Linked DNA regions of Homo sapiens. The gene in region 1 interacts genetically with each later gene. Each region holds a gene or a part of one and is shown in the gene's direction. Other genes may lie near its edges.

Region 1 (16,256 bases):
TGTCAATGCGGCTTTTTGGTTTTCTTCCTCCTTTTAGGGCTATCGCAAAGTGATCATTTCAACCAACATCGCTGAAACCTCCATAACCATTACAGGAATAAAATATGTAGTTGACACGGGCATGGTTAAAGCAAAGAAGTATAACCCTGGTGAGAATTTGTAGTTCATGAATGTCTCTCCTGTGTCTAGTGAGCAGCCACTGAAACTGTAGTCCCACAGTTTTCCCCTGAGTGTTTCATGTTTGTAACTAACAAATTCAGGTGGCAGGCGCCATGAGTGAGATCACCTACACTCCAGGTCCGCGAAGGAGTCCTGAGGCGGGTATGTGAGACAGGAAGTAGAGGCAGGAAAGAAGAGCCCAGGTTGAGCAAACTTGGGCACACAGGGTCAGGGACCTGGGCAGAGGGTCTGGTACCCCATCAGAAGTCGGCTCTAAGGCCAGGGACAGCTGGGTGTCAATCAAAGGGTGTCATCAGAAACTATATATATATGGCTGGTTTGAGCTCCCAGGTTTCTCAGGAAGGAACCAGATCTCCTGGCTGAGGTGAGGCATGGAAGGAGCACTGGCTTCTCCTAAGAAGGTGCAGTGAGAAGCTAACTTAAGGTCATCTTGACTCATGTCTGTTTTATACTTTGCTTTATTCCACAGAGGATTTGAGACCACTGAAATTATTGCTCCCAATTATTGAACTGAAATGCTCTAGTAAACATTTGAGGGTCCTGGCTTCCACAGGTGTATCTTTTTGTGATGACGTAGGTGAAAGAGCTTGGGTCTCCAGTGCCAGGCTAATGATACACCTTTATCAAGAAAATGAACCTCATTTACTGCTAGAAAACAGACATCACATTATTTCTGTCTTACAGCAGAACTGGGAGGGAGGATAAAGCACACAAGTGATTTGAGGCATTTAATTTCGTAGTCATTGATTGATAGTATGACCCCCATCCTAGTTTGCTGAAACTCCCAGTTTTAGCACCCAAAATCCGACATCCCAGGAAACCCTCTGTCCCAAGCAAACTGGAGGGGTTGGCCATCCTACCATCTAAGGCAAGACCTCGGAAACTACTCTTCTCGCCCCTTGCTGCATGCGTGAGGTTTTTCTGATGTTTTTGTAACAGATTTCACAGTGGGCTTATGGCAAAGCCTTGTTTCACTAGGGCCAAACCGCTGCGGAGCAGTCTGGTTTTGTGCTGTCCATTGTGCTAGCCTTGAGGCTTTCTGGACCCCCGTGTTGCTGAAAGAACCACTGGTGTGCTTCTTTTTATCGACACTGTAGAAAGAGTTTGTTCATGTGATGAAGCACTAATGGGGCTCACTCTCCATCCAGACAGTGGTCTTGAGGTGTTAGCAGTGCAGCGGGTATCGAAGACGCAGGCTTGGCAGCGCACAGGGAGGGCTGGCAGAGAGGACAGTGGCATCTGCTACCGGCTCTACACGGAGGACGAGTTTGAGAAGTTTGATAAGATGACCGTGCCAGAGATCCAGAGGTAGGCACCAGTTGCTCCTGCACTGCTGCTGTTTGTCACCATGTCTCTCCTGCTTGCCCAGAGCTGCAGTTTTTACTCACACTCCACCATGAGGGGTTCTGACTCAATGGCAGAGGGATCAGGTCATGACCCTGGTCTCATGCTCTTCACAGGTGTAACCTGGCCAGTGTGATGCTTCAGCTTCTAGCAATGAAAGTCCCAAATGTGCTCACCTTTGACTTCATGTCGAAGCCATCTCCAGGTAAGTGAAATCCACAGTTTTGCAGAAGGTGGGTGAGGAGACAAACAACAACAAATGGACACTTCCAAAAAAATAAAGTATATTGGTCATCTCCTTTTGTTTATTTAATTTTGTGGATGACAACATTAGTTATTAGAGAAGCATCTGAAAATCATGAAATGATAGATAGATACATTGATTGACTTTTAAAGAGACAGGGTCTCACTGTGTGGCCCAGGTGGAGGTGCAGTGACTATTCACAGGCTCCATCACAGCCTCCAACTCCTGGGCTCCAGCGATCCCCCCGCCTCAGCCTCCCAAGTAGCTGGGACCACAGGCATGCGCCAGTGTTCCTAGCTATGAAACGATAGATTCTGTACTATCAGCACCATCAATAAAGTTCCTTGACCTCTGGAACCAGTGAAGGTCATCATGCGAGTCCTTGGGATACTACAGAAATGTAATGAAATTGTACTTTTATCAGCACAGGGACTGCAAAGATCACATTTCTTTGCCTTTAACTGGAATTTGATCCATCTCTCCTGTTCATTAGTAATTTCTCTACAGAAGAAGAAAATAATTGGAAATATTTATGATATTGGCTTTGGCACCTGGCCTCTCATCAACGCACCATTTTCCTTTTCTTTTTATTGCCCCCCCTTTTCTTAAGAAATGCAATTGGTTTAAAAAAGAAGGAAAGAAAACACAAAGTCACCAGTTGATGGGTATACAAGGGTCCTGCCCTGATCCTCAGGTTCACAGTTTCCTTCCCCTAGAACAACCACTGGAACCATTTTCTAGTAGACTTCTAGAGCAAATGTATGCATATATGAGTATATGTAGTGTGTTTGATTTTATTTATGTATTTATTTATTTATTTTTGAGACAGGGTCTCACTCTGGTTGTCCAGGCTGGAGTGCAGTGGCACATTCTCAGCACACTGCAGCCTCAACCTCCCGGGCTCAGGTGATTCTCCCACATCAGCTTCCCAAGTAGCTGGGACTACAGGTGTGAGCCACCAAGCCCCTGCTGTAGTATGTTTTTGTTTTTGTTTTTGTTTTGAGACAGGGTCTCACTCTGTTGCCCAGGCTGGAGTGCAGTGGTGCGATCCCAGCTCACTGCAACCTCCACCTGCCGGGTTCAGGTGATTCTCCTGCCTCAGCCTCCCGAGTAGCTAGGACTACAGGTGTGCACCACCATGCCCGGCTAATTTTTGTATTTTTTAGTATAGATGGAGTTTCACTATGTTGACCAGGCTGGTCTTGAACTCCTGACCTAGGTGGTCCGCCCACCTCGGTCTCCCAAAGTGCTGGGATTACAGGCGTGAGCCACCACGCCCAGCCTGTAGTATGTTTTAAAACACAAATAGCAACACACATTGAGTATTGTTCTGTGCTTGATTTTTTTTCTTTCATTGCTAAATTCTTACATACAAATGAAGAAGATACATAAGGTGTAAGGAATGGTTAAAATCTAACACCTGTGTACCCAATTGAAGCCCCCAGGAGTCCCCCCCACCCACTTGCCCTCGCCTCCTTCCACTCTTTTGGGGTACCCACTCTTCCATATTTTGTTTGTAATTGCCTTGCTTTTCTTCACTGTTTTACTATATGCGTATGTATCCCTAAACCACCTGTTGTTTGTAAGTTTATGTTAGTTATTCTTGAGTAAGCGGTTTTCATTCAGCTTGTTCCGTATAGTATATTTGTGCTGATGCTTTTTCACACTAAGTGCTATTCCATTCTGTGAATAAACCAAAATGCATTTATCCATCCTTCAGTTGATAAATATTGCTTTAAAAAAGCAATGAGAAACACACTGCTTTTTTTCATTTAATACATTTTACAGATCACTCCTTATTGGGATGTATATATTTACTACATCCTTAGAAATGCTTTTTTATTCTTTAATAGGTACTATATTTACATGGTTCAAAGTTTAAAATATATAAAATAGTAAATAGTAATAATGTCCTTCTCATCCCCTTGTCTCCCAGCCTCCCCAGCTGGCCCCTGAGACAACTGCTATTTCCACTGTTATGTGTTTGGTTCTGGCGATATGGTCTCTGTGCGATGTGTATCTGCAGGTGAAATTCGTAAGTGTAACATTGCTGGGTCAGATGTTACACTTTTAATGTGTATATTCAAAATCTACATACATATTGCCAAATTACAGGTCATTTAAAAAGAAAATTGAGGCTGGGCATGGTGGCTCACACCTGTAATCCTAGCACTTTGGGAGGTCAAGGTGGGCAGATCACCTGAGGTCAAGAGTTTGAGACCAGCCTGGCTAACATGGTGAAACCCCGTCTCACTAAAAATACAAAAATTAGCTGGGCGCGGTGGTGGGCGCCTGTGGTCCCAGCTATAGGGGAGGCTGAGGCAGGAGAATCGCTGGAACCCAGGAGGCAGAGGCTGCAATGAGCCGAGATCACGCCATTGCACTTCAGTGTGGGCAACAGAGCAAGACTCTGTCTCAAAAAAGAAAAGGGAATTGAACTAAAGACAGTGATGTCGTTCTTTGACAAGTGTGTCAAGGGGGCAGTGGCGGTTATGATTTTTGCTGTTGTTTGATGTAGAATTATCAGAAGCTCCCAGAAATACTGAACTAGCTGCAACTTCATTTTTTTGGACTTTTGGCTCCTTTTTATGTCTCTGTTTCTTTAGATCACATTCAGGCGGCCATTGCCCAACTGGACCTGTTAGGTGCTCTTGAACATAAGGATGACCAGCTTACCCTGACTCCAATGGGAAGAAAGATGGCAGCATTTCCTTTAGAACCCAAATTTGCCAAAGTAAATGATACCCTCTCCTCAGTCCTCTTTCTGTACATTACAGTTAACCGTCCCAAAGTAGTACCATCTACCCAGTGCTTCTAGATTAATCTCACTTTTTCTCTTACATAATTACCAACCCCTAGTTTGCAAATAGCCCTGATTCATGTTCAGTGTGGGATTCAAAGAGATGAAGTTAAGAGCCCCTACCCACAAGAAATTTGGAACTCTGTAGGGAAGGCAGTCACCTGTTTTATTGAATATTAAAGAGTGAAATAACACTAATGTACATCGCCATGGTTTTAGAAATACCTGCCCTTTAACTCCTTAGAAGGGAAACTGCAAAAGCAATGTACAGAAATAGTGCATTCTAAAGCTAGGAGAAAGCTGGGTTTACACAATTTTAAATTTTGCTTTGCAGACCATCCTCATGTCCCCCAAATTCCACTGTACAGAGGAGATCCTGACCATTGTCTCCCTGCTGTCTGTGGACAGCGTCCTCCACAACCCTCCTTCCCGGCGAGAGGAAGTGCAAGGGGTCCGCAAGAAGTTCATATCCAGCGAGGGGGATCACATGACCCTGCTCAATATCTATCGGACCTTCAAAAACCTAGGCGGAAATAAGGTGAGCCTTGTCTTGCACCTGTTCTCCAGCGATAGCTGCTTGTCTCTGCTATGTGCTTCCCTTTTTCTACTGAAGCCGTGCAAAAAGTACGCTTTCCCTTTTTGGCTAAATTATCTAAAGAATCACAAAAAGAAAGCCAGACAGCATTTCAGAAATGCTTCAGTACCGAAGCAGTGTCATTCTGGTCTCTGTTCCGAATGTGTTTAAGTCAACAAGACTTAAGTGACTCCCAACCCATCAAAACTTAATTGGAACTTGATTAAGTAATATGTCTAATAATGATAGTGCGTACCAATGAATGAGTACTTACTCTGTGCCAAGCCCCATGCTAAGCACTTCTTAATGTAAGATCTCATTTATTCAGTAAAGTAATCCTAAGAAATGAGCACTATAATTATTATTTTTTATATTCATGAAACATGTAGTCATGGAAACGAAGCTTCGTGCAGTTGAAAAACTTGCCCAGGGCCAGGCACAGTGTCTCAAGCTTGTAATCCCAGCACTTTGGGAAGCCAGGGCAGGTGGATCACTTGAGCCCAGGACTTCCAGACCAGCCTGGCCAACATGGCAAAACCCCGTCTCTACTAAAAATACAAGAATTAGCCGGGCGTGGTTGTGCATACCTGTAATCCCAGCTACTCGGGAGGCTGAGGCATGAGAATCATTTGAACCTGGGAGGCAGAGGTTGCAGTGAGCCGAGATCGTGCCACTGCACTCCAGCCTAGGTGACAGAGCGAGACTCTATCTATCTCCAAAAAAAGAAAAAAGAAAGAAGTCTTACATAAATTGACTGGGCATTTCTGTTTTGTTTTCTGTGTCTGTTCATATCCTTTGTCCATTTTTCTACTGGGTCGTTGGTCTTTTTCTTAATGACTTGTAGAACTTTTAAAATCAATTCTAGAGATTCTAATCATTTATTGGGTATGATGAGACAAATATCCCAATCTGGGAAACTTCAAGTTTTTCTTTAGTTTAAATTATTAACACTTTTCTTATAGTTCATGTTTTTTGATATAAAGATATTTTCCTACGTTTCTTTTTGGCACCTGAAGTTTTTTCTCTGAATTCAACTGTGTTCTAAAAATGTTGTTATATTTTCTCTATAGAGATGAGAGGATTGTTAGCTGGGCATGGTGGCATGTGCAGATAGTTCAAGCTATCTGGGAGGCTGAGGTGGGAGGATTGGTTTGCAGTGAGCTATGATTGTATCACTGCACTCCAGCCTAGGGAACAGAGCAAGACCCCGTCTCTGTGAACATATAAATGGTGAATGAGTGGATTGTGATATCACTCTTTCTCCTATTCAGGATTGGTGCAAAGAGAATTTTGTCAACAGCAAGAATATGACGCTGGTAGCAGAAGTCAGAGCACAGCTGAGGGACATCTGCTTAAAGGTATCGTCTGGTCCTAGTGTTCTGTGGGTGACAAAGCTGTCACTTTGTTCAAGGTAGAAATTTTGAAGTTGCTTATTGCTAGTGATTATAAAAGGATTTCTCATTGTAGCAAATTTCACAAATAAGAAAAAAGGAAGTTACCCACAATTCCACAATTCAGTAGTTTAGCCTATTTCCTAATAGCCTAGTTTTTATTGTATTTTTTTACATAGTAAATTATATGTATAATTTATATTTGGTTTTATAATCTTTATAAGCATTTTCCAGTGTTAGAATTCTTCATAAGATTTTTTTTAAGTATGAATATCTGCATTATTTCCTTTTAGATTACCAAAGTTGTGTATAGTATTTGACACAATGCAGAAAATAGTGATTTATAATGTAGAAAGTTTAAAAGTCTCCCATAATCCTGCCCCTCCAGAGATAACTACTGTTAACAGTTTGGGGTAGCTCCTTCTAGAATTTGTTTCTGTGTATGTATGTTTTTGTGCATGTCTCTGTGCCTGTGTGTGAGCACACACATAACGGATACGTGCATATGAGGTACATGTTCCACAACTTCCTTTCTTCCACATGGCATATTTCTTTCTTTCTTTCTTTCTTGTTTATTATTTGAGACAGAGTCTTGCTCTGTCACCCAGGCTGGAGTGCAGTGGTACCATCTTGGCTCACCACAGCCTCCGCTCACTGCAACCTCTGCCTCCCGAGTTCAGGTGATTCTCCTGCCTCAGCCTCCCGAGTAGCTGGGATTACAGGCGTGCGTCACCACGCCTGGCTAATTTTTGTATTTTTAGTAGAGACGGGGTTTCACCACGTTGGCCAGACTGGTCTCGAACTCCTGACCTCAGGTGATTTGCCCGCCTCGGCCTCCCGAAGTGCTGGGATTCCAGGTGTGAGCCACTGTGCCTGGCCTCACATGCGTATTTCTCAAATCCTTCCTGTGGCTGGGCTTTCAGTGCTGCATGTGTCTAGCTCATTCATTTTAGTGATTTCATAGCATTTCATTGTATTCAGTGCAGTTTATTTAAGCCTCTAATAATGGTCATTTAGATTCTGTTGTAGTGACCATCCTCCGTATGTGCTGTGGTGCACACAGAATGAATTTCTAGATGGGGGAATTTGGATTTTGTTAGATATTGCCAAAGTGTCCACCGCAAAGTGTTTTTTTTCCTTTCTTTTTTTTTGAGACGGAGTTTTGCTCTTGTTGCCCAGGCTGGAGTGCAGTGGCGCGATCTTGGCTCACCACAACCTCTGCCTCCCGTGTTCAAGCAATTCTCCTGCCTCAGCCTCCCGAGTAGCTGGGACTACAGGCATGACCCACCACACCCGGCTAATATTTTGTATTTTTAGTAGAGACGAGGTTTCACCATGTTAGCCAGGATGGTTTTGGCCTCCCAAAGTGCTGGGATTACAGGCGTGAGCCACCACGCCCGGCCTAATTTTTTGTATTTTTAGTAGAGACGGGGTTTCACTATGTTGGCCAGGCTGGTCTCGAACTCCTGACCTCAGGCGATCCACTGGCCTTGGCCTCCCAAAGTGCTGGGGTTCCAGGTGTGAGCCACTGTGCCCGGCCCACAAAGTTTTATATTAGCTTTTTATTCCCTCTTAGAGTACATGGTGTTTTAAAGAGCTGTCATGGTATATTTAATGCTCGCATGACACTCCACATTTTATGTCAGAGATAGAGGGTAGCGGAAGTGTTCTTTTGCTGTTGATCACTGAGACAGTGTCCGTGTGTTTGCTGCTGTCCTGAGTACTCTGTGGTGAATGTCTTGTGCCCCCTCAGTGCGGACGCTGCTGGGAGACAGTCACAGCCTGTACCCAGGCCTGTGTCTGATGCCAACGGCCTACGGTTGGCACTAGAGCTGTTTCTTCTCATAGTAGCCTATTGTATTCTGTCTTTCACACATTTTTTTAAACTGCTTTTGTATTTGAACAGTTTCCTGCCAGTCTGTCTCTTGGCTTCATAAGTTTTCTCAATTTATCATTGACAGTAGAAACGGTGCTTCTCTATTAGTTGTGAATTTAGGACCCTGTAGTGGCCAGGGATACCTCTCATTATATGTCAGGCACTGGTAAGGTCCTGAGACTTTACAGACATGCCTACTCAGTAACTAAGTAATAATCTAGATGGTGACCTGACGTACATACACTCATGCCAGGAGGCCATCAAATTAAAATAATCACTATCATTCATGAAGTGTTTGTTCAGCACTGTTCTGAGTACTTTTTATGTGGCTGCCTTATTTAAACTCCTCATTTCTTTTTTTTTCTTTTTCAACTCAGACCTTAACCCAAAGGATAAAATCCTCATTTCAACCTATAAGATTGATTCTTTTGTTATTCCCATTTTACAAATGATGAAACTAAGCCTAATCAGGTTAAATAATTTGCCCCAAATCACTCAGCCAGTGAGTGGTAAAGCTGATAGTCTGGAAGGAGAGACCACCAGTTAGCCTCTGGGGCTTCTTGGAGGTGGTGACAACTGAGCTAGATCTTGACAGATAAGGAGATAAAAGAGTATCTTCCAGGCCAGGTGTGGTGGCTGGCTTATGCCTCTAGTCCCAGCACTTTGGGAGGCCCAAGCAGGTGGATTGCTTGAGGCCAAGAGTTCGAAATCAGCCTGACCAACATGGTGAAACCCCATCTCTGCTAAAAATACAAAACTAAGCTGAGCGTGGTGGTGCATGCCTATAACCCCAGCTACTCAGGAGGCTGAGGCACAAAAATCGCTTGAACCCAGGAGGCAGAGGTTGCCAGCGAGCTGGGATTGTGCCACTGCACTCCAGCCTGGGCAACAGAGTGAGACCCTGTCTCTTAAAAAAAAGTATCTTCTTCAGGCATAGATCAGCTGATTGTCAACAACAGAAACCCTAGAGCCATCATAAAGGACAAAATAAAGATTCTTCCAAGGATGGAAAGGTATCTCTGAGAACCGATAGGCAGGAAATAGAGTCACAGGAACCAGAAAAAGCCTGCAGGAGCCAGGCCCGCCACTTTCTCTGGACCTGCTGCTTCTCTTGCTTTGAGTGCCCTCTGCGTGCCTCCTTCCCTTTTCTCACCTTTACCTCCGCATGGAAGTGATTTCTCTGCATGGCCCCTCCACTCAAGAGCCCAGCAGAGATTGACAAGTTTTCCAGTTTCAAACCTAAAAGATGCCTGGAAGAGAAAAGCTGGCCAGCTTAGGTCCAGCGTGTGTGTACCACTGGTTTGTTCATCTGTGCCCAGGGGCGTAGGTTACATGCCCCACTCATCAAGAGCAGTAGAACAAGGACATTGACTGGTGACTGACATTTCCTCTGATGAGACAGGCAGCATTTCTACTAAGAGTAGCAAATGTGAAGGCACAGATAGGAATCATGAAACGGGGCGAGGAAAGAGAAGGCAGCCAGCTATGGGGGACCATGGAGTGTCTAAAGAAGAGTGGTGAGGCCGGGCGCGGTGGCTCACGCCTGTAATCCCAGCACTTTGGGAGGCCAAGGCGGGCAGATCACTTGAGGTCAGGAGTTCAAGACCAGCCTGACCAAAATGGTGAAACCCCGTTTCTACTAAAAATACAAAAATTAGCCAGGCGTGGTGGCAGGCGCCTGTAATCCCAGCTACTTGGGAGGCTAGGGCAGGAGAATAGCTTGAACCTGGGAGGTGGAGGTTGCAATGAGCTGAGATTGCGCCATTGCACTCCAGCCTGGGTGACAGAGGGAGACTCAGCCTCAAAAAAAAAAAAAGAAAGAAAGAAAAAGAGCGGTGAGAGGAAAGACAGGCGAGCAGCTCAGGGTGGCTCCTTCGTGGCTTCACCACGGGAAGTTTGCATTGTTTTGCAAGGAGCAGTAGAGACATTGTTGAAGGTATTTGAGTGGATGAAGAGTGATTCGAGTTGTGCTTTAGGTAGATTAGCTTGGCAGCAGCAGGTGGGTGAATCGGAGTGAGGAGATGGTGAGATGGTCAAAGCGAGAGGGAAGGGCCTTTCCTTTCCGGGCCGTCCTGATGGAATTTAGGTGAGGGGTGGGTCACCCAACCTGCCTGTGGTCTGGTGGCTAATGTGAGCACCTCCCTCCCAGCCCTACCTTCACAGGCGGTAGTTTCCCTGTTTCTGGTCCGTGCTCCTCCAGCTGGGCCTTCTTCCCCTGACCTTGCTGATCCTTGGTGACCACCTCCGAATGTCAGAATCCACATCGTTAGGCTCACAATGTGGGCTGCTTTTGCCCCAGTGGGTCCAGTTGCCCCAACACGCTGTGTAGTGCTGACCAGTGTTTACGTGTGGGGTCGGCTCCATTCCTCGCTTTCTCCCGAAACAGATGTCAATGCCAATCGCATCATCCCGAGGAGACGTGGAGAGTGTCCGCCGCTGCCTGGCTCACAGCCTCTTCATGAGCACCGCCGAGCTTCAGCCAGATGGCACCTATGCCACCACGGACACCCACCAGCCAGTGGCCATCCACCCGTCGTCTGTCCTCTTCCACTGCAAGCCGGCCTGCGTCGTGTACACTGAGCTGCTCTACACCAACAAGTGCTACATGCGGGACCTCTGCGTCATAGATGCACAGTGGCTGTACGAGGCTGCCCCTGAGTACTTTAGGAGGAAGCTGAGAACCGCCAGAAACTGAGCCGCCCCAGGATGCCGCCAGAATCACTGGTCCCTGGGAGCTTGGACTACAGTTGTCCTTACAGCAGGCTTCCAGGTTGGCGCTTAGAGAAGCCTTGGAATCAGCTGAAGGTGCCTGACTTCCAGGAGCGTGAAAGCATCTTTGCTCAACTCCTGGGACTGAACCATATAGACATGGACATATCATTTGTACCTGGAAACCTCAAAATTATGCTTTTGGTTCTTACTGGGTGACTTTGACTTAATTTAACACCTGAGCCTCAGTTTTCTCATCTGCCAAATGGGAGTAATAATAATAATCCTTATAAAATTGGGTTCATAAAGTTTAGAGAAAAGGAATGGAAAGTACCCAGAACTATGCCTGGAGCACGCACGACACACGTACAGTGAGTTGGGAGCCGTTAGGCTGAATGTTACTGCTTGCCATATGATGTGAAGTACAGCAATATCCCAAGTTCTTGTGACTGAGGGAGATTTTCTGGAAGGGCCACAGGAGGTTGCGGAGCTTGGATGTTGCCCTTAGTTCTTGTTTAATGTCTCTCTGAATGCAGTTTTAAAATAGAAAACAAAACTGACTTCTGTAGAAGTTTCCAGAGGGAGGTGCTGTTATCTCGTACCTCCTGGGATGGCGATCCCTACTGAACGCTTGTGTCTCAGGGTGGACCACTCTGTGTCTGTCTCCAAGCAGAGACCAGTAAAGGAGCCTCCTGGTCCTCAGTGCGTGACCCTGTCAGTGCTTTCAGGAGACATGTAAGCTTCCTGGGTGAAGGTTGATTTGTACCTTCTGAATCCTGTCACGTGTAGACATGGGAAACTGACCTATCAGTGTTTTGTGTGTGTAGGTGACTCCCACATACACAGTTGCCATTTTTCTCTCTAACTGGGCACCAGTGAACATGCGGGCATGAGGAGTGACTGTGTACCATTTCAGCTGTTTCTTTTCGGGCAGTCCCCTGGTCAGAGGGGGTGGGGGTGGGGGAGGGGAGAGGGGTACCTAGAACCCAGAGAACATTGGCTTATGCCAGATACCACACCACATCTGGGCTTACATTCTTGTATCTTTTTTGGTGTGTGGGCGGGGGGGGTGGGGGGCAGTTCAGTGAAGTCTAGAAGACCTGCTGGACAAATTCTAAAAGAGCTAGAGCTGTAACACTTATTCTTGCATCTTATTAATTTTCTATGATATTTTTTCCTTCTTCGTAGGGACTTGGGACAATCTGGCTTTGCTGCTTTCTAACTGCTAGGCACCTCTCTCTAACCCTCATTGTCAGAGGGAATTGGAGGATATCCACAGTCTGTTCCTGTTCTGATATTCTGAGCAGAGAAAAGGCACTAACGGTTCCTCTTAGCTATTTAATTATCAGAAGCAAGTAATCTTTCCCCAGATAATATTTTGCCCTAGAAGAAGCCGTGATTTAGCTCTTTTATTGTGCTTACTTGGTCCAAATACATCTGTGGGGTGTTTTGTCATTTCTTAATGAATGAATCATAGTTATAACCAGGGGCCAAGCTGCCCAAGAGGCTCTTCAGAGATCATGGATGCTCTCTTTCTGGAAGCTGTGGCCTGATGGAGCAGCCCCATTCCAGGGTCCCATCTGTCCGGAGTTGTGTATGTCAAGTCCGGCTCAGTCTTTATTTCCAACACTAGCCGTGGTCCTGTGCAGTCAAGCTCTCAGCTAGTGTTTAGGGCTGTCTGTCAGAAATGGTTATACGTGGGCAAAAGAAGATCTGACAGCTCCTATATACCTTATCTTACTGAATTCTTAAACTTTGAACCAGTTCTTCCACTTACTGACTTGTTACCACTGCTGACTTTCTGAAAAGTTTTCCAGTTTTTGTTTTTTGTTTTTTGTTTTCCAGTAGGGGATTAGAATGTTTAGTCCTACTTAGTAAGAAAAATATTGTATTTTTAATCATTCATAGTGCTGGTAAAAAAAAAAAAAAAAAAAAAAAAATTGGGGGGTGGCCGGGCGCAGTGGCTCACACCTGTAATCCCAGCACTTTGGGAGGCCAAGGCGGGCGGATCACCTCATGCCTGTAATCCCAGCATTGGGATGGGAGGCTGAGGTGGGTGGATTGCTTGAGAAGTTCAAGACCAGCCTGGCCAACATGGCAAAACCCCGTCTCTACTAAAAATAGAAAACTTAGCTGGGCATGGTGGCACACGCCTGTAATCCCAGCTACCGGGGAGGCTGAGGCACAAGAATTGCTTGAACTTGGGAGGCAGAGTTTGTAGTGAGCCAAGATCACGCCACTGCATTCCAGCCTGGCCGACAGTGTGAGACGGTCTCAGAAAAAAAAAGAAAGAAAGAAAGAAAAAGAAAAAACTTGGGGTAATTTATGTCCAGCTTAAGTACCTGAACAGTTTCCGGAAATGTATATTTTTTTTCTGAGAGGCAAAGGATGTAAACAGCTTCTAAGTAGCTTTAATGTTTCTGTACAGAAATAAGTTTATCCCTGTAACATTGTGGTAGAGTTTTAATACAGTATTTAGTTTTTTATTGGGCTTTTTTAAAAAGTTAACTTTTAACATAGCTGCTCAGGGATTAAATCAGATTGGAAAACCCATTCTGACTCCACATACTGCTACAAAGAAATACATCGTTGTTTATATTGAGCTGCAGGAGATAGTACACTTTAAACTTAAGAAAGTTAAATGTTTCACAATAACATTGCAATATAATCTTCAGCTACTCTCTTTCCATTGGTAAAATCTCTGATGGTGTGATAACTCTTTGCCAACCTACGAAACCCATATCTGGAAGAATCACCAGCTCCCGTGAGCAGCTTCATGTAAATAGATGCACTCCAAGCAGATTGCATGCCTCAGGTGTTTGTCTTCTAGTAATCATGGAGTGTGCAACACCCAGAGTAACACTACAAGGGGCAGGACTGCAAACAGCAGGTCCTGGCTAAAAACCCTTAATGCTGCATTGCTGCCAGTTGTAAAGAGATGCCTGAATGGAGGCAAGTTCTGCCCTGTGGGTGAAACTGATGATGTACTGTACTGTCATATATAAATCCACTAAATCCAGCTACCAGGAACTGCCTGGAACTGTGGCCATGCATTTTTTTTTTTCTTTAAAGACCAGTGTGATAGTAGGCCATGCATCTGAGATACGATATTCCTTGGTAACTAGAGGGAGAAAAAAAAATCAAGTAGGTTCAGGCTTATGTTGTATTTTGAGAGTCTGGTTTTATTTGAACAGAAATAACTCTACAGAAAGCTCTTGTAAATAATGCTCAAATTTGCACCCGACGATCAAATCCATTAAAAATGAATCTTGTATATGATGTGTGTGGCTTGTTTCTTGCATCTCTTTTCCATTATTCATAGAAAATTATTTAGAAAATATTAAGTGTTAGTCTTACCATGAGTTAGTAAGACATACCTTCTTAGTAGCTTATATGTCCTGTATATCCTGGGAAGGTAGGATTGTTGATTTTTAATAAATCTGAACCCTGTCTTTGGGTTATATTAATTTACTGGAGAAACTCACAGAACTCAGGGAAACACATTTACCGGTTTCATACAAAAGATATGACCAAGGATACAGATAAGGAGATGAGCAGGGTGGGGAATGGGGAAGAAGCTCCCAGCCTCCATGCCGTCCCTGGACCACCACCCTCCAGGAACCTCCATGTATTTAGCTATCAGAGGCTCTCCAAACCCTGTCCTCGGGTTTTTATGGAAGCCTCTGGACTTATCTAAATGATATAAGCTGGCTTCTTGTCCCCAGAAAAATGATGTTCCATTAGAACTTGGATGCAAGGTTGGAGGTGCAGAGAGGGAAGGTCACAAAAATTAATCATGGATCCTGCCCTTGAGGATGTCACAGTCTGGTTGGGTTTAACCTGGTTAAAGCAGCAACGCTAGGAGGTTCCTGTTGAAAAGAGAATGAAGCATATGGGCTGGGTGCGCACAAGCATGAGTTCCGAGCCGGTGGAAAAAAAGGTTCTAGAAGGCCTCTTTCAGGAAAACCCTCAGACTTTCCTTTGCTCTCACAACACAACAATCAACACAGAAGACTTATGTGGCCAAAGGTTTGGGTTTTTCCCCTCCACACTAAGCAGCAGACACCAGCTGGGTGTCCTCCAATTCAATCCCAACAGTATCTACCTGGAGATAGTGTCAGATCCCATAGGTTGAGGGCTCAGTCCCCAAGACCGCCCCCACCTTCAGACAGCAATGGCAAGTCTGGGCCTCTGAAACTTCCGACCAACCCGCTTCAAGTTGGGGTTCCCACGACCCCCCTCTTTGGATTATGTTAACTCACTGGAGCAGTTCACAGAACTCAGGGAAACACATTCACCGGTTTCATATAAAGGATATGACCAAGGATACAGATGAGATGAGCAGGGTGGGGAATGGGGAAGAAGCTCCGAGGTTCCTTGCCTACCCTGGGCCACCACCCTCCAGGAACCTCTACGTATTCAGCTGTCAGAGGCTCTGCAAACCCTCTCCTCTTGGGTTTTTATGGAAGCTTCTGGACATCAGCATCCCTTCCCCCAGGGTATATGGTGGGACCTTCTCTGGGAAGGGACTTAAGACCCATAATCAGAAATGTGGAAGGAGATTAGAGTCCTGCTTTGGGGCAGGTAAAAGGAGGGCAGGAGAAGGGGAGAGTCTGTTTCCTGAGGCCTAACACACCCAACATTATCACAGAACATTGTAACAAGGGCTATAGGAGTTACGACCCAGGAACTGTGGATGAAAACCAATACATATATATATCATAACACCACAGCCTCCTAGAGGAAAGTGACCGTGGAAGGGTCTGGTGAGAGCTGGCGGGAGACAAGAGTGCATTCCACGCAGCCCAAAAGCCTTGCGTGCTTTGAGAACAGCAGGTGGAAAGTGGGTAAGCGGCCACTAGAGGGAATTAAACAGCTTCGGACAGCGGACTCGGCAGCGCAGCAAGAAAGCTCCGGAATCCGGATTCGAGGCTTCCCGGGCTGCACCGGAGTCTCCAGCAGAGGGCGCGATTCCGCCCGCTGGCCTTAGGTCGTCAGAGCGCCGGCGCGGGAAGCGCTTCCGGGCAGGGGCGGGGCTTCCGGCGGCGCCTCAGGTCGCGGGGCGCCTAGGCCTGGGTTGTCCTTTGCATCTGCACGTGTTCGCAGTCGTTTCCGCGATGCTGCCTCTGCTGCGCTGC
Region 2 (16,518 bases), on another chromosome or scaffold:
AAGGACTCTGTGTGGGGGAGGAGCAGGCCAAGGGGCCAGGGGAGTGTTCTGCACTGGATGCTGCTGAGTGAGGAGAAGGCATGAGAATGCTGGAGCTAGAGGATGGGGTGGGGAGGAGGGGCAGAAAGTGCCCAGGCCCCTCTCAGGAAAGTCATCTGGTATAGCCCAAAGAAATTAGGTTTAGAGTCAGCAGATCTAGATTCACGTCCTGGCTGTACAACTTACTAGCTGTGTGTCCTCGGCAAGTTACTTTACCTCTCTGAGCACATTTCTTCATCTCCGAAAGGAAGTTCATGATCCCTTCCCTACTTGCCTTCAGTGTTGTTATAAGGTTTAGATAAAAACATAAACATGTAAATATGAGTAGGGATAAAACTCTACCTGAGTAGTTTTTTTTCCTCACTCATTAAACAAATGTTTATTTAGCACATTCTATGAGCTGGGCATTGAGTTAGGCACTGAGGGTGGAGTGGTGGCTAAGATCTCATCCCTGTGTCTGCCCTTCCTTGAGTGAGTCATCTGCCCAGACTCTGTATCCTCCAGTGAAGTGTTTCCCTGGTGAATGAAGGTGAGTACGCTGCATTACTGAGAGATAGGCAACACATGCTGTGAACACTCTGTCCTGAGCATAGGTGACCCAGTCAACAAGGTAACAGCAAAATGGGCAGAGTAACCCAAGCTGGGAGCCACTTTGGGGACAAGGGACTGGTAGAGGAAAGAATGAAGCCTTTAGGCTCTTGCATGGGCTAGTAACAGCAGAGAGAGGAGCCACAGCTGAGAAGGGACCTGACCGTGAAACTGAAGAGAGAAGGAAAGAACAGTAAAGCCAGGCAGGCAATAGAGAGATGGAAGGGTGGGGGCATAGACCTCTAGCCGACTCACGTCCGGGTGGGCTGGTCAGGCAAAGGCTGGGGGCGCCAAGCTGTTGTCTGAGCTGGAGACAGGCTGGCTGAAGATTAAGCTCCCCCAAACTGCTGGAGGTCAGGAAGCTAGGGAGTTGGGACTGAGGCCAGGGACTTCGCCTCACTCAGTGGATAGGGAAGAACAAGCAGTAGGTCTGGAAGCCGCAGGATTGGTTGATGCTAGTAAGAAATGCCCAGGCAGGGACAGAGAGAGTCAGAAGATAACAGTGATGGTGAGTCCAGCTCTGGAAGGGGGCTGCCGGCCCCACCCCTAGACTTTTTGCCACACCCTGCTAGGGATGTGAGGGATGTGTGGCCCAGTCCCACTGGTATCAGGGTGGCAATCCCAGGCCCAGGGAGTACAGAGGGCCTACAGGTATGCTCTGATTCTGTAGTACAGGCTGGAATTACAGGAAGCCTGGTCATGGACTGCAGCAAGAATGAAATATCCAGGACATATGAAGGTGGAGAGCAGATCCCAGGCCAGGGAGGCCACAGTGGGGAGGCCATGGTTTCCAAGAGACACAACCCCATGGCAATAAGTCAGCTGTCATGTGGACCCACTTAAGTCCTGAAGCCAGAGAGGTAGACCAGGGACATAGTGAGAGCCCACAATCGGTTGCAATAATAATGCCTGAGGCTGGAGGCATAACCTGGAACTCAAATAGGAGAAAACCTTTCTCATTCAGGGGCTAAATGGAGAGATGAGAGGAGCTGGAGTTGTGATGTTTTCATCTTATAAACATGAAACTGAAGTGAGGTCCTTAAGTGGACATGGCTGCATGTTCATTAGGGACGCTGAGCACCCAGACTCTATGGTTTGCTGAACTGCAGTGTGCAAATGGGAGCAAATCGAGACACATTTGCAGCAAAGATTTGAAGCACTCAAGTTATTAAGGGACGATTCGGGGATCAGAGAAATGACTCCACAGTCTTCCTGCTCTTCCTTGCTTCCTTCCTTCAGCAAGTATTAGGTGTTAAGAGGGATCCCAAGAACAGTAAGGCAGAGACCCTATCTTGTAGGAGTCTGCAGTGTAGGGAGGCAAACAGAGCACAGGATGGAAAGATGGACCGCATGGGTCTGACTCCCAGACTGTGGGAGATCAGAGAGAGGGAAGCCCATGGAAGGTGGTACCGAGTGTTGGGAGCTCAGAGAATATAGGCACGTGACTGAATTGGGAGTTCAAGAGGAAGAGAAGGGGTATGGCATTCTAAATAATCAGCAGTGTTGGGAATAAGCTGGCAGGCTGGGAGGGCAGTGGTGAGCCTAGGTTAGTCAGAGTCTCAGTGTAGGCCACGGGAGATCTGCAGAGAGAAACGAGTCAAACCGAGGGGGCCTCCAATGGGGGACAAGGGGCAGTGGTTCAGATTTGACAAAGTCTAGGCTACAGTATGTCCAGCTTTTTCATCAAAAACCGCTAAGATTCACACTGAGCAACAGCCCTGAATAAAGAAAAAAACCCTAAGACCAGTCAAAAACAACATCTACTAGAAAACAGAAGCATGACCTGAAACAGCTGCCACTAGTATGAAATTGTTTTGAGGTCACCAGCTTTATGTTAAAAATGCAAACAAATTTTTCGTTCTATTCCATACTTTAGTCATGGATTATAAAATATTTTAATATAAAAATAAAGCTTTTTTTAATATAAAACCCCCCAATCTTCAAGTGATATCACCACACCAGGAAGATGGGCCCTGTTTAGACTGTGTGTCATGCCTCCTCCACTCCCGTACTGCCCTCCTCCCCCGCCCACCCCACTATGAGAAGCAATGCACCAAGCAGTAGGGGTCACTGGAGGCTTGTATCCAGGGGTGTGACAAAAAACAGCATCTTTGTGACCTTTATTTGACCATGGTGAGCATAAAGGGTTGGGCAGGGAAGAAATAGGAAAGGAGAAACTATTAACTGAAAGGTGTAAAAAAGGCCCCGGGGCAGGACAATGGGAAAGGAGAGATAGAGTTTTGAAAGTTATTCCTCTCTGTCTTCCCCCAACTCTTACCCCACTGATGATCTTTTCCTTTTCCTCCCCATCATTCTTTTCATGAGTCCCTGGCAGTGGCCATGGACACCCTAGACACCCCAAAGCTCAGGACCTAATGGATCCTTCAGGTTAGTCTAGGAGGCATCATTTAGTGTGAATGGAGAAGAAAAGATTCTACTGGCCCCATCCTTCAGTCACCACAAGTCAGCTCTAGCCTGCTGCGTTTGCCCTCCCGTCCTGAACCTGAGTCCTGGGCCAATGTTCCCATCCCTGAGCAGGAGGCAGGCAGAGATATTTGGCCTGGTAGACAGGCTGAGCATTTGGGGAGCTCCCCAGAGTTCTCAGACAGCGGCAGGGGTAGTGGCCAGCATCTGAAGTCCACGATAGGGTGGCCCGTCTGTCATTAAGATCCCTCCTATGGCTGCATCAGGGATGAGATTAGGCTGCTCTAAGTCTCAGCCCCACTTTTCCAAACAAAGATTCTGCAGCTTGGGCATAATAATAGCAGTGCTTCTTATTTATATGATGCTCCTCCATTTGCAGAGGGCCTTCACAGACATAATTTCATTTAACTCGCACAACTGCCCTGCATGGCTGGAGTGCCTATCCCCATTACACCTCTAAGAAGGCAGGATGCAAGGTTACACAGTTTGAAGAGATTTGAAGAGATTCAAACCATCTAGTTCTGCTCTTTCCATGCCTCACTCCCTCCACCCTGTAGCCATTTGTGACTCTGACATGTGCTGATCCTTCCAAACCCTGAAGGATTCCATTTCTACTTCCTGCCTCTATCATCTCTCTGGAAATGAGCTCTGGAAGTATGCTGCCCACTGTGTGCCAAAGAACATTTTTCTATTCATCCTGAGCTTGCATCACTCCAGTTCTAAAAGGCCCCCTCATCTCCAGTTTCAAGATTTGGGGAGCAAGCAATTCTTCTGCATATCTAGGTCTTTTATTATGCTGTAGATTTCCATCCTGTCTCACCTTCCAGAGGACTAAACTTTGAAATTTGCCCTCACCAGCAACCCCTGGCTCCCCATTCTGCCAATCATTCTCTGACCCTACTCTAGGCCCATGACATTCTTCCTAAGAGCCAGTGACCAGGCATGCGTTCAGTTACAAGGCTTTATGCAAGGGTGGGAAAAGGTTCTGTCTTTTGTTTCCAATCACCTTCATTATGATACCACCTCTTTGGCCTTTTTGGCAAAAGCCAACTTTGAGCTAAAGTCTTCAGGGAACCATCTGTAATGCTTTCCCTGTTCCTTTCCTGACACAGAGTCCTTCATTTCACCTATAATTTCAGTGATTTTATGGGAGCACAGCAATGGGAGCACAAGCCCCTGAAAAGTGTATCAGAATGTGATGGGGATAATTGTGGTGTGTCTTTATATTGATCAAAATAGGGCAAATGAAAAACAAAAGTTGAGAATCCTAGCCAGTAATAAGCAAACTTTAGAACTGAGGAATGGACATGGGAGTATGGGGAATACGTATTGTATGTCACTCACAGGTGAAGGGTAAGAAAGGTTGAAACCACTGTTTAGATTACTCATTGCTAAATACAATGCCTTGCACTTGTCCTTGTGAAAACTCAGTCCCCAGCTGGGCTATCTTGCTCACTTATATGGACTCGTTCTCCCTGTTCTGTCCTCTTCAGCATAATTGAGCTGTGGTTAGAATTGGGGTCAGGGTGGATGGTCACTGTATGGGCCCAGCAGAGTCAGGGCTGTATCCCAGCTGCAGGGAAAGTAAACCCGGCTGTTAGGTAGGGCCAAGATATCCTTCCCAACCAGACTGAGAGGGCCAGATAGCCCCCTGTTGGACTCCAGAGTCTGGATTCCATGAGCCTCCTTCCCACCTCCGCTCAGCCACCAGGGTGGTGTTGGGACTGGTAGGGCTGAGGAAGAAAAAGGGAAACAGGACCACAGGATTTGCTTTGCTAATGGGGCTGTAGTTTTCTCTTCTGGCCTGGGCTCCTGCCCACTGTAGGGAAGGAGCCATTGGTCGCCTGATACTCCAGCAAGGAGTCTGGGGGGTGTCTGGTTAATTGTATTGGAATTAGGGGGCAACTGAGGCTGCCAGGGGCTTGTACCCAGCTCCTTCCTGTTTTCCCATTGCCTTTTGTCACCTATTCCTTCCTTTCCTGGTCTTGATTCCCACTAGCAGGCTCCTCATTGGCCTTCTGTCCTCAAATTTGGATTCTGGAAGTACAGAGTGATGCTCTGATCTATTCTGAATTGAAGGGGGCATGTGTCCCAGCCCACCTCACCCCAAGGCCAGGTTGTAGCCTTTACTCTCGCTCCCTGCTCACAGCTTCGCAGCCCGAAGGAGCTGAAACAAGTTTGCAAAGTGTGAGCTGGGATTTGAGGTGACCCACCGCAGCCGACCCCATCGCACACGCAGCAGCTGGGCAGGCGCTGCTGGGTAGACGGACATGCCACCCAGCCAGGGACATTCTGTCCGCCACTGCCAGACACAACTCCCGCTCCGGAGAGACCCACTTCGCTACCCGGACATTCTGTCCGCTCCGAGCCCCATGCACCGCGGACATTCTGTCCGATTCTGAGGCGGCCTCAAGTCAGGACCCTTCTGGGCCCAGACACCCCAAGCCAGATCCACTATACCCGCCGCCTGGTCACTCTGATCCGCACAGCGGCCATCTGACTCAGTCGCGGCCGGGCTCTCACAACACAGCTCCTATTCCAACTGCGGAGCAGCTGGGAAGAGAAGCGTGTGCGACCAGGCGCACCCCGGCTCCCAGCCCCAGGAGTCTGAGCCTAGGCCGAGGGGCATCGGGCGCCGTCAACTGCCCCCACACTGGGGGCCGCCCCGCCAGCTCCCCCGCTGGCCAGGGCCTCTGTAACCCCTTTCGCTCCCTGGCCGCCTGCCCCGTGCCCTGGGATTCCAGGGCGCTTTCTGGTAATGGTTTCCAGACTCCCTACTCCCTGCCTCGCGAAGCCCCTATCCTGGTTTCAAGTCTCCGGCTTCGTTCCGGATCCTCTGAGTCTCCCCCTTCCCTATCCCCTGGTTCTTACCCTGAGTTTCCCTTTTCCCAAGTCCTGGCCCCAGGTCTGCAGTCCGCCCTCCCATTCTCGACCTGTTCCCAAGGCACCGGAGTTCAGCTGCCCCAGGTCTCGTTTTAGGGATTCCAAGGTCCAGCAATAGCTCCTCGGCCCCATGAGCCCCTGTCCTTAGAATGGTCAAACACTCACAGTGCGTCCTGCAACAGGCAGACTCCCAGTAGCGGCGGCTGCGGCGGCGATCTAGAGGGCAGGCAGGGGCCAGGGGCCGGGCACCCGGCCGGAGTGGGGGCCGCCCCCCTGCTCCCGGGCCGCCTCTCCGCTCGGGCGCTCCTGGACTCTCGGAGGGAGTGAGCCTCACCGCGTACTGCCACCCCCAGCCGGCGCCCATTCACTTTATGGCAGACCAGGGCGCCCCCAGCCCGCCGCGGCGAGCCGCGCGCGTCAGGCCCCGCCCCTTTCCAGCTGCCCTGCTGGGGCTCCGCCCTTTCCAGCTGTGGATCTCCAGGCCCCGCCTTTGAGGGAGGGGTCTGGCCGGCGAGACGCCAAGAACCCCGCCCTCTGGCCAATCAGAAGCGCTCTTCAGCAACTCGGCCGCGCCCCTCCCCACGTGGCAGAGACCGCGCTCCGGCTAGGACGCTTAGGCAGAGCCAAGTGGGCGAGAGTAGAGTGGTCCCGGTAGCCACGGGTAAAAGGGATCGGCTGGCAGCGAAGTGGGTTGGGCCGCTACCCCGAGGAAAGTGGATCGGCGCCAGGTGGGAAGGCGCACGGGGCCGCCGGGTCTCAGCGCTCAGACTTCTCTGCCACTCAAGTTTCGCCGATTTTCTCCACTTGTCGCTGTCCGTCTCTCCTCCCTTTTGTCTCTGTTCCAATCCTCCCACGTCTCGCCTTTCTTTCCTCTTCTTTCTCCTCAGCCGCTTCGCTCCTGCTGTTTACCATTCTCCTTCCTCTGCCACTTTAAAAGACTCATTTCTCTTTCTCTCTGCTCCTCTTTCCTCATATCTTTCCTCTTCTTCATTTCCCCCTTCTTCTCCAAGGAAGGTGACTTCGTGGAGACAGCAGGGTTTGGAATGATACAAACCAAAGTAGTATTCCAACGCTGCCACGAACTGCACCATCACTGAGTGAACTTGGACGAGTAACTATCATCTCCCTCCCCGCGCAAAACAATTAAGAGGAGGTTCCTGCTGGATCTCAGGGCTTGGGCTGGGCACTCCAAAGGCATTGCCTTTCAGTCTGTACCCTTGTCTTGCTTAGGCTGTGCTCTCCCTCCTTCAGCAGGGCTGGTTTCCCGCTGGTGGTACCAGGTTAAGTCCTGTGGGCAAGGTGTGGCCTTGGTGCCTGCTGGTTAGGAATTTGCAAGGGACAGGACAGATGACCAAGGAACATCCTGGCAGACTGTGACTTCGGCCCTCTCTGACTTAGGCCTCAATTTCCAGGAAACAGGCTCCTTCTCTTCTCCCAGTTAGGCTATGTTGCTTGGGTGCTCCGAAGAGCCTAAGCCCAGGCCAAACACTGTGGCTCATGCCTGTAATCCCAGCACTTTGGGAGGCCGAGGCGGGCGGATCACAAGGTCAGGAGATTGAGACCACCCTGGCTAACACGGTGAAACCCCATCTCTACTAAAAAATACAAAAAATTAGCCGGGCTTGGTGGCGGGTGCCTGTAGTCTCAGCTACTGGGGAGGCTGAGGAAGAAGAATGGCGTGAACCCAGGAGGCAGAGCTTGCAGTGAGCTGAGATCGCGCCACTGCACTCCAGACTGGGCGACAGAGCAAGACTCTGTCTCAAAAAAAAAAAAAAAAAAGAGCCTAAGCCCAGTCACACAATATGCCCCTAAGGCAAATCTGAGCAGTCATGTCTTGACTGTTCAGTGACTCCCATTGCCCTTAGGATAAAGGTCAAGCTCCCTAGCCTGGCATACAAGACCTTCAGGACCTGACCTTGTCTTCATCTCCAATTTCCTAGTAGTGTCCTGCACACCTCTGGCCCTTCCTGTGAAAGTAACCCATCTTTATATTGTCAATTCCTACTCCTCCAATGTTCCACTCAAGTCTTATTTTCTCTGGGAAGCCTTTTCTGAACTCTCAGTTTAGCCCCTTGCTCTCATGACCCTCAGTGTATACCTTCTATTACACCACCCACCATATTGAAGGGATCAGCTTATGTGTTGTCTGCTATGATAATAAAATTTAGGAGGGTAAGGACCATGTCTGTTATTCCCAGGCATAATGTAGAATCTCAATAAATGTCACACTGAAATCTATGAGGAAGATGTTCTGCCTGGTAAGATGATGATTAGTGGTTAGGAGGGACTAGGGAATTGTCATCTCTCTCCTCCCCATCTCTATTGCACAATCACATGCTTTTAGAATGATGAATTTCTGGAGGTATGTAGAAGTAGATATTGGCGAGCAGAAATTTTTGGCCCACTTAGAGGATTTTCCAATCGGCTTTCCAGGACCTCTCAATCTGAGACAGGCCCAGGACACCAACTCTCAGTTTTCAAATGAAGAGGAAAATGGCTTTGAGGTAATGTGGAAAGAGGTGCTATGATGGTATATCCTCTTTCCCTGACTCTCTTTGGGTGATAGAGGCTAGATCCTCAGCTGGACCCACCGACCAGAAGCCCAATGTGCAGGTGTAGGAAGTTACTGAGGGGTTCTTCACGTCTGATATCTGATGGGTGCTTTACACTAGAGCATCGTGGCCAGGTGTGGTGGCTCACACCTGTAATCTCAACACTTTGGGAGGCTGAGGCGGGTGGATCACCTGAGGTCAGGAGTTCGAGACCAGCCTGTCCAACATGGTGAAACCCCATCTCTACTAAAAATACAAAAATTAGCCTGGTGTGGTGGCAGATGCCTGTAATCCCAGCTACTTGGGAGGCTGAGGCAGGAGAATCACTTGAACCCAGGAGGTGGAGGTTGCAGTGAGCCAAGATCACAGCACTGCACTCCATCCTGGATGACAAAGCAAGACTCTCTCAAAACAAACAAACAAACAAAAGACAAAAAAACAAAACAAAACAAAAAAATAGCGCATCGTAGCACACGGATGGTCTTTGGATGTCTGGTTTTGAGACTACTTTCCTATGTGGTTAGTTATAGAGCTTCCCTGGACTTGGGTCGTCCATAATTGGGAGGATGTATGGAAAGAATTAGGTATTTTTTTTTCACTGCCTCCCAGCAGCTTCTCCAGGTCTGCAGGGACACTGGGGCTCTAGTGTCCCAAATAGGCTGGGAATTTCATGATTCAGTCTCCTAGGAGAAAACCCATCCTCTTGTCCTCTTCTCACGCATTCTCACTTCCAGGTAATACAGGTAATTCTAAATAGCTTAGTAACCTCTATCATCTCTTGCAAGGGGAGGAGGCAGCTGGGGGCAAGACAGTGAAAACAGGTGGGCATCCAACCCTCAGGCCCCTTAGCGTTTCTAAGGCAAACAAGAAAGACTTCTGTTTCCTATCACTGATGAGGTGGGCTAAGCTGCGTATTTAGCCTGGTGGATAAGGCCCGTCAAAGGCTTGGTATGAAAGGCAGACCGGGAGTCAAAGCCCGATATACTAAGGCATAAGAGGTGACAAAAGGCGATGAAAAGAGTTGGCCTGGGGGTGAGGAGACCCAGGGGTTCGTCTCTCTGCTCTGCTATTTACTAATTATGTGAACATGGGCCCAGCCTTCCACCCTGGGGCTGTTTCCTATAATGTAAAATGAAGAGACTTAAATTAGATATCCAGGGCTTCTGCTACGTCCCATTTTCTCTATTTCTGGATGATGGGAGTGGGGCAGAGGACGCTGAAACAGAGTTGGGACGTGACAGACATAACTGTGAGAAGCCACGACAGGGAAGGTGGACAAGAGGGCGAGGAGAGCAGGGTGTGGAATAGATCGCTGGACTTGTTTTTAGAATGAAGGGAGCCCAGAGCTGCCTCGAAAAGGAGTGATTCCTCAAGGGGCATGGTCTTGGCCCAGGTAACTTTGATAATACGTGGACAGGGGAGTAGGGATGCCCGCTCAAGTTCTCAAAGCGGACCCCGCCCCTTTCCAGCCAATTGTAGCCTTTTTCCCCATAATGCCCAGCAGCCACTGCCAAACCGCGCACTGCAACCGAACTCTACCTAACTCCACCTCTCTAGCCGCCCAGCCCAGTTCCTCATTTTTTATTGGTTTTTTAAACTGTCACTCAGAGAGTACTCGTATCCGTTGGTTGTCCCCTAACATACCCTTTCTTTCCCTTGTAATCGCGCTTCTTTAGGCACTACCCGCCTCCTGAAGCCAATTTCCTTTATTCGATTGGATAGTCGGAATGCTACTTTTCACGGTGCAAAGCTATGATTGGCTGCGCGCGGCAGGGCTCGCGCAGTTACCAGGCAGCGGGCTAGACTGAGGCTAGTTACCACGTCAGTGAGCTGACAGGGAAGGTACCCGGCTCTACTGCCCGTCCCGGACGACTCATCCTGGCGGACTGTGCAGTCCCACCCTGACTTCGGCCTCAATTTCCAGGAAACAGGCTCCTTCTCTTCTCCCATCTGCTACCAGAGCCGGGAGAGCTGCTCGGAGACGCCTCCGGGGTGCGGGCTGGACATGAGCAGCGGCTGCCGGTCCTGGGACTAGGCCCCGCCATTTTGGATCCGCTGACAGGTCAGCGAAGTCTCTTCCTAGAGTTCCGGTGTCGTGAAGGCCGCCCTGACATCGCAATAGGGAATTAGTGGGAAGGGCCCTTAAATTGGGCGAGCCAAGGTGGGCTAAGGACGCAGCGGACAGGAATAAGACGAGGGAAGGGTTGTTGTGGGAGGGAACAGGGAGGTATGCAGGGGCAAAGGTCATGCCTCTGCCGCAGGAGGGGCGATTTCTGCTCTCATTACTGATCCTTTGCAGGTGCCCAAATCTTCTGTTTTCCCAGGCTTGACCTAGTATTTAGCTTCTCCTTTCCAGCGCTTTCTGCATCCTGAAGAGCCCAGTACTCAAAAGCTGAAAGCAAACCTAAGGAGCATTGTGTCTACTTTTATGGGTTTTCAGACTTTAGATGTGAAAGTCTCTCTAGATTCTGTACAGCGTCTACTTCTTTGTGATTGCCTCACTAATACAAAGGAACTGCTTCATTAATAATGATGAACTAGTGCACCCTAGAATCAGGTTGTCAGCAGAGGGACGTGTGGAAGGCTTGAGGTTATAGCAGCGCAGGGAACTGGGCTATGAGAAGGCTTCCCTCTTACAGGACAGCTCAGCTGCCAGTCTGGGTCTGTATGTAAACACTATACTTATCTTCTGGGCCTGTTTGTTCCTTTATACAATCTTTCACAGGCATTCTTTTGTAGTGTATGTTTTTGTTGACATTTTTCTCTCAGATCTTCACTAAGGAGATGAGGCTTAATCATAAGGAAACCACTCTATTATGACATATTTGACTGACAGCAGAGAGAGATATTTGAATACTGGCAAAGTTTGGTATTGTCGGCCTATTATGTTTAGTGGGCAAAAAGAGTCATGAGAGATTTTCAGCCAATTGTAGGGTCAGAGCCCCAGAGTGAATGATGGAACATAACCCTAGAGAGTAGTTTATGGCACTGTGATGACCTTTGATAAACTGCTGTGTTGTAAAGCTATAAAAGTCCACCAAGGGTAACGAATGCTTTTAGAAATAAGGAATAGTGTAGATGGTGTTTTTTAATGCACAATGTGGAAACTTGTGCATTAATTCAGGTATAAAAGGCACTCTAGGCCCTGTGGAGGATACAAATGGAAAGGTCTGCTTTGGGACTGCTCAGTTAATGCACTTCTTAAAAGTAGTAGCATGTATGTGCAGTGGCCTAGCTAGAGCATGTAGTAGGTTAAGAGCAGGATCAACCTAATACCTTTTGGTATGTAGTGGGCACTCAATAAACGTTATCTCTATCTGGGATTAGTTTCAGTATGTGATCAGGACTTGTGGCCTGCTTTTGGCCCTGGCAGTCAGGAACACTTTGCACTTTTGCATGATGAGGTAGTAACAAGGAGGATCAAAACCTCATAGTGTCAGAAGAGAAAACTATTTAGGATCTTGGAATGACTAACTCAATTTTTCCTACCTTTGTCCTTATGAAATTGAAATTTCATAATTTCCCTTTTCCCTTCCTACCTTCGTCCTTATGAAATTGAAATTTTTGTGTGTGTTGGGAGAAGGGGGATGGCATTATTTATGCTTCACCTGTGTTGATTTAGATGGAAATGGTACAGGAAACTATTTGCATTTTAACTTGCTGATCTAAGTTGTAGAATTCCTCCCCTCTCCCCGCCCCCAAGAAAGTAGTTGAACGCAGCAAATGAAATGACATACCTCAGGAGGTACCCAGGTTTGATGATCCTGCCTTGCTCACTTGGGCCATTGCCCTGTTGAGTTGATATGCTTTGCATAACAGGCAATCTAGTCTCTGGGTAGGCAGTGTGATCAATCCAGGATCCAGTCATCCTCAGTTGAGCCTAAGGGTGACTATAGAGGCATCAAAACGTTTTCTCTTTCTCTCTCTTTCTTTTTTTTAATCCTAAATGTCATTTCTAGATAGGAATAATTTTCTAGATAGGAATAATTCCCACTCCTACCCACAAATCAGAAAATTCATCCTTCAAATACAAGTCCCAAGCTTGTATTTGAGCTTCTTTTTAATGGTGTTTGTAGACAGTATGTTCCAGTCTTGACAGTGATGCTCATTGGCACAGTGGGAACTCAGGCTATAGACATATCTCCTCAGTAGCTGGGCACCAATCCCAGTTTCAGCTCAGAGTTCTCAAAGTTACACTACTATTTTATTTCCCTCTTTTCCAGAAGTCAGGATGACTGCCACTTTCACATAATAACCTCATTGATAGGGTACTTAGACTGGCTGCTGTGGGCAGCTAAAGAGGAAGAAGACACAGCTCTTGCTTTTGAGGAGACTCTATTTATAGAGTACTCACTGCAAGGATCACCCTAATCTTTGTATGACACTTCTCATTGATTGATCACACACTATATCCCTGTGGCTCTGTGTGACTGATTAGAATGATTCTGTTGTTGGGTTAATGGTGGGATTGAATTTAAGGGTGTATGTTTTTGTTGACATTTTATCCTCAGGCTAGAAGAGCTATGTAAATATAATGAGCTGCTGTTTAGCTGTTACTCTTTTTTTTTTTTAATATTTCAGTATGTTCAACTGCAGTTGTTTAACTAAATGAAAATATAATAAAGCAGTGTGCTGATTTGGAACCCCAATAATAATAGAAGTGATCATAGAAGTGATTATTTGTTCTAGTAGTAGTGGAAATTACGATAGATGCAATAGTAGTGTAAATGATCATGGAAGTATGATGGCAAAGTAATGGTTTGCCAATCATATAAACCAGGGGTTACGAGCTCATGTGCCTAAATGCCAGGCAGGTAATGTAAATGAGTTAATTGAGTCCCATGGGAATGTATTAGGATTAGTGGGGACTGTTGTGTACTGGACAACCCATGCCTTTATTTTTTTTTTGTCTTTAATTTTAATTTCTTTTTATTGAGACAGGGTCTTGCTCTGTCACCCCGGCTGGAGTGCAGAGGAACGATCACAGCTCACTGCAGCCTTGACCTCTGGGCTCAAGTGATCTTCCTACCTCAGCCTCCCAAGTAGCGGGGAACACAGATGTGCGCCATCATGCCCAGCTAATTTTTTAATATTTTGTAGAGACAAGGTCTCACTGTATTGCTCAGGCTGGTTTCGAACTCCTAGACTCAAGCAGTCCTCCCACTTTTGCCTCCCAAAGTGCTGGGATTTTAGGAATGAACCACCATGCTCAACCCATTCCTTTATTTAGAAGAGCCAACTGCTCCTTTTTCAGCAGATTGTTACTGTTTTAGAGTGCAGGCACAGAATGACCACTCTTTCTATTTTTCAGGAGAAACTGGAAATTTAGATCATTGTGTTTTCTAATTGTTGGAAACTAGTTAAAAGTATTTTTAAGCCTTTTTCAGGCCAAAGAAAATATGTCTGTGGACTGGATTCTGCCCAATGGTTACTGGATGATGACCCTCAATAAACAAAATGGGCAGGCCTTATGAGACTTAATCACTGCAGTTCTCTATACATAATCACATAGACTTTTTTTCTTTGTCCTACTCTGCCAGCTGTCACCTTTGTACCTTGGGTGCCCTGAGTGGCTAAAAGATGGAGTGAGATAGAGAAGGTTTGTTTTATTTTTCATCTCCAAGCTGGCAGAAGGGACAGCTTTGGACATATTAGTAGCTTACCTTGTAAACGGTTTTTGAGATACTCTCAGAATCTCCACAGGGGGAGGAGATGGCATGCTAGAGCTGAGGTACCCTGGTCACCCGATTATCAGGTCTGGGAGGATTTTCCAGTGATGCATTGTCAGGGCACCAGCTTTTTTCCCAGTTTAACCTTCTTTTACTTCCACCCTTTAAGTAAATTTCTTGAGCTCAGTAAGTTGTTTCCTAGTTTAGTAACTTTGGTTATTCTCAATAAAGCACAGAACTATGATGTGTTCCTAGGCCAGCTCTGGAAATGTTAAAAGCTCTGCATCTTTAGTGTTTCTCTGGCTTTTTTTTTTTTTTTCTCTGATGGAGTCTTGCTCTGTTGCCCAGGCTGGAGTGCAGTGGTGTGATCTTGGCTCACTGCAACCTCCGCCTCCTGGGTTCAAGCAATTCTCCTGCCTTAGCCTCCCAAGTAGCTGGGACTACAGGTGCACGCCACCACACCCAGCTAATTTTTGTATTTTTAATAGAGATGTGGTTTCACCATATTGGCCAGGCTGGTCTTGAACTCTTGACTTCGTGATCCGCCCACCTCGGCCTCCCAAAGTGCTGGGATTATAGGTGTGAGCCAATGCGCCCAGCCTTCTCTGGCTTTTAAAGGTATTGAGTGAACATAAACCTTAGAAGGGCCTATTGCTGGTCCTTTAGCTCCCTACTACCATCTACCTTTTCAGAAAGTCCATCAGTTTTTCTTGGTTTGCCCAGCTCTGTATTAGACACAAAGGCATCATGAAAAAGAAAAACAAAATTGCGCTTTTGCCTTTGGAGAATTTATTTGCTAGTTGGATAAGAATAATTTTTTTTTGAGACAGAGTCTCTCTCTGCCACCCAAGCTGGAATGCAGTGGTGTGAGATCTCGGCTCACTGCAACCTTTGCCTCTCAGGCTGAAGTGATCCTCCCATCTCAGCCTCCTGAGTAGCTGGGACTATAGGTGCGTGCCACCACGCCTGCCTGATTTTTGTGTTTTTTGTAGACACAGGATTTTACTATGTTGCCCAGAGTCCAGTGGTGTCATCATAGCCCATTGCAGCCTTGATTTTTTTTGGCTCAACTGATCCTCCTACCTTAGGCTCCCTAGTGGCTGGAACTACAGGCATGTATCACTATGTCCCACTAATTTTTTTTTTTTTTTTTTTAATTTATGTTGCCTAGGCTGGTCTCTGACTCCTGAGCTCAACCATTCCTCCTGCTTTGGCCTCCTAAAGTGCTGGGATTAAAGATGAGAGCTACTGCACCTGGCCAAGGAAATGTTTAAAAGTGATTAAGAGGCCGGGCGTGGTAGCTCATGCCTGTAATGCCAGCACTTTGGGAAGTCAAGGGAGGCAGATCACCTGAGGTCAGGAGTTAAAGGCCAGCCTGGCCAACATGGTGAAACGCTGTCTCTACTAAAAATATAAAAATTAGCTAGGCGTGGTTGTGGGCGCCTGTAATCCCAGCTACTCGGGAGGCTGAGGCAGGAGAATCACTTGAACCCTGGAGGTGGAGGTTGCAGTGAGCCGAGATTGCGCCACTGCACTCCAGCCTAGACGACAAGAGCGAAACTCTGTCTCAAAACAAACAACCAAACAAACACAAAACCAAACCCCATAAAAGTGATTAAGAAAAAAAAAAAAACCACTTAAACACTAGTGTACTAAAAACAGCTATTTAGAGCCAAAGAAAATAAGGCATATATGAAGAATTGACAGTTACATTAAAAATTATATATTTCACAAAAATGTGAATGTGCAAATAACACTTAAGGAGATGTCAGGAAGATAGACGTGAAAAAAGAAGCATTATGATATGGCTGGTAGGTAAATGTGGGTTCTTTTTACCTGTATGGAAGGTTTGTAACTTCTGGTAGAGAAGCAAATATATATTATCAAAAAAAGGTTTGCCAGTGTGGCTCAGAGTTATTGTCTTCTATGAAGTCATTTTTCTCATGAGGTGGATGTGTGCTGTACCACTCTTGAAGAGTCAGTCTTGATGTTATTTCATTTGTTCATCTAGTATTTATTGATCATTTTTCTTACTATGTGTCAGGCTTTGGAGATAAAAGGGTAAATAAATCATGGTCTTTCCCCCTGAGATAGAGCCTGATAGTCCCATGGTGGTGATACACTAAATAAATAATTATAAATTAGTATAAGATGTGTTTATTTTTATTTTCATTTATTTATTTGAGGCAGAGTCTCACTCTGTCACCCAGGCTGGAGTACAGTGGCACGATCATACCGCAAGGCAACCTGGAACTCCTGGGCTCAAGTGATCCTCCTGCCTTAGCCTCCCAAGTAGCTGGGACAACAGGTGTGCGCCACCACACCTGGCCAATTTTTCTTTATGTTTTGTAGAGACAGGGTCT

Evidence for each region.
Region 2: changes in DHX33 (region 1) and GBF1 together harm fitness more than expected from each alone (negative genetic interaction), as found in Homo sapiens cells (one study listed by BioGRID).

Annotation. Positions count from the first base shown.
Region 1 is NC_000017.11:5,439,053-5,455,308, reverse strand, and holds the end of DHX33 (ATP-dependent RNA helicase DHX33), read left to right. Parts: intron 1-37; coding exon 38-149; intron 150-1,328; coding exon 1,329-1,488; intron 1,489-1,640; coding exon 1,641-1,729; intron 1,730-4,374; coding exon 4,375-4,502; intron 4,503-4,902; coding exon 4,903-5,106; intron 5,107-6,413; coding exon 6,414-6,500; intron 6,501-10,795; coding exon 10,796-11,104; 3' UTR 11,105-14,392; downstream 14,393-16,256. Other genes in the region: C1QBP (complement component 1 Q subcomponent-binding protein, mitochondrial precursor), read left to right, coding at 16,236-16,256. UniProt on the Homo sapiens protein: Implicated in nucleolar organization, ribosome biogenesis, protein synthesis and cytoplasmic dsRNA sensing. Stimulates RNA polymerase I transcription of the 47S precursor rRNA.
Region 2 is NC_000010.11:102,235,234-102,251,751, forward strand, and holds the start of GBF1 (Golgi-specific brefeldin A-resistance guanine nucleotide exchange factor 1), read left to right. Parts: upstream 1-10,298; 5' UTR 10,299-10,548; exon of another isoform or gene 10,549-10,647; intron 10,648-16,518. UniProt on the Homo sapiens protein: Guanine-nucleotide exchange factor (GEF) for members of the Arf family of small GTPases involved in trafficking in the early secretory pathway; its GEF activity initiates the coating of nascent vesicles via the localized generation of activated ARFs through replacement of GDP with GTP.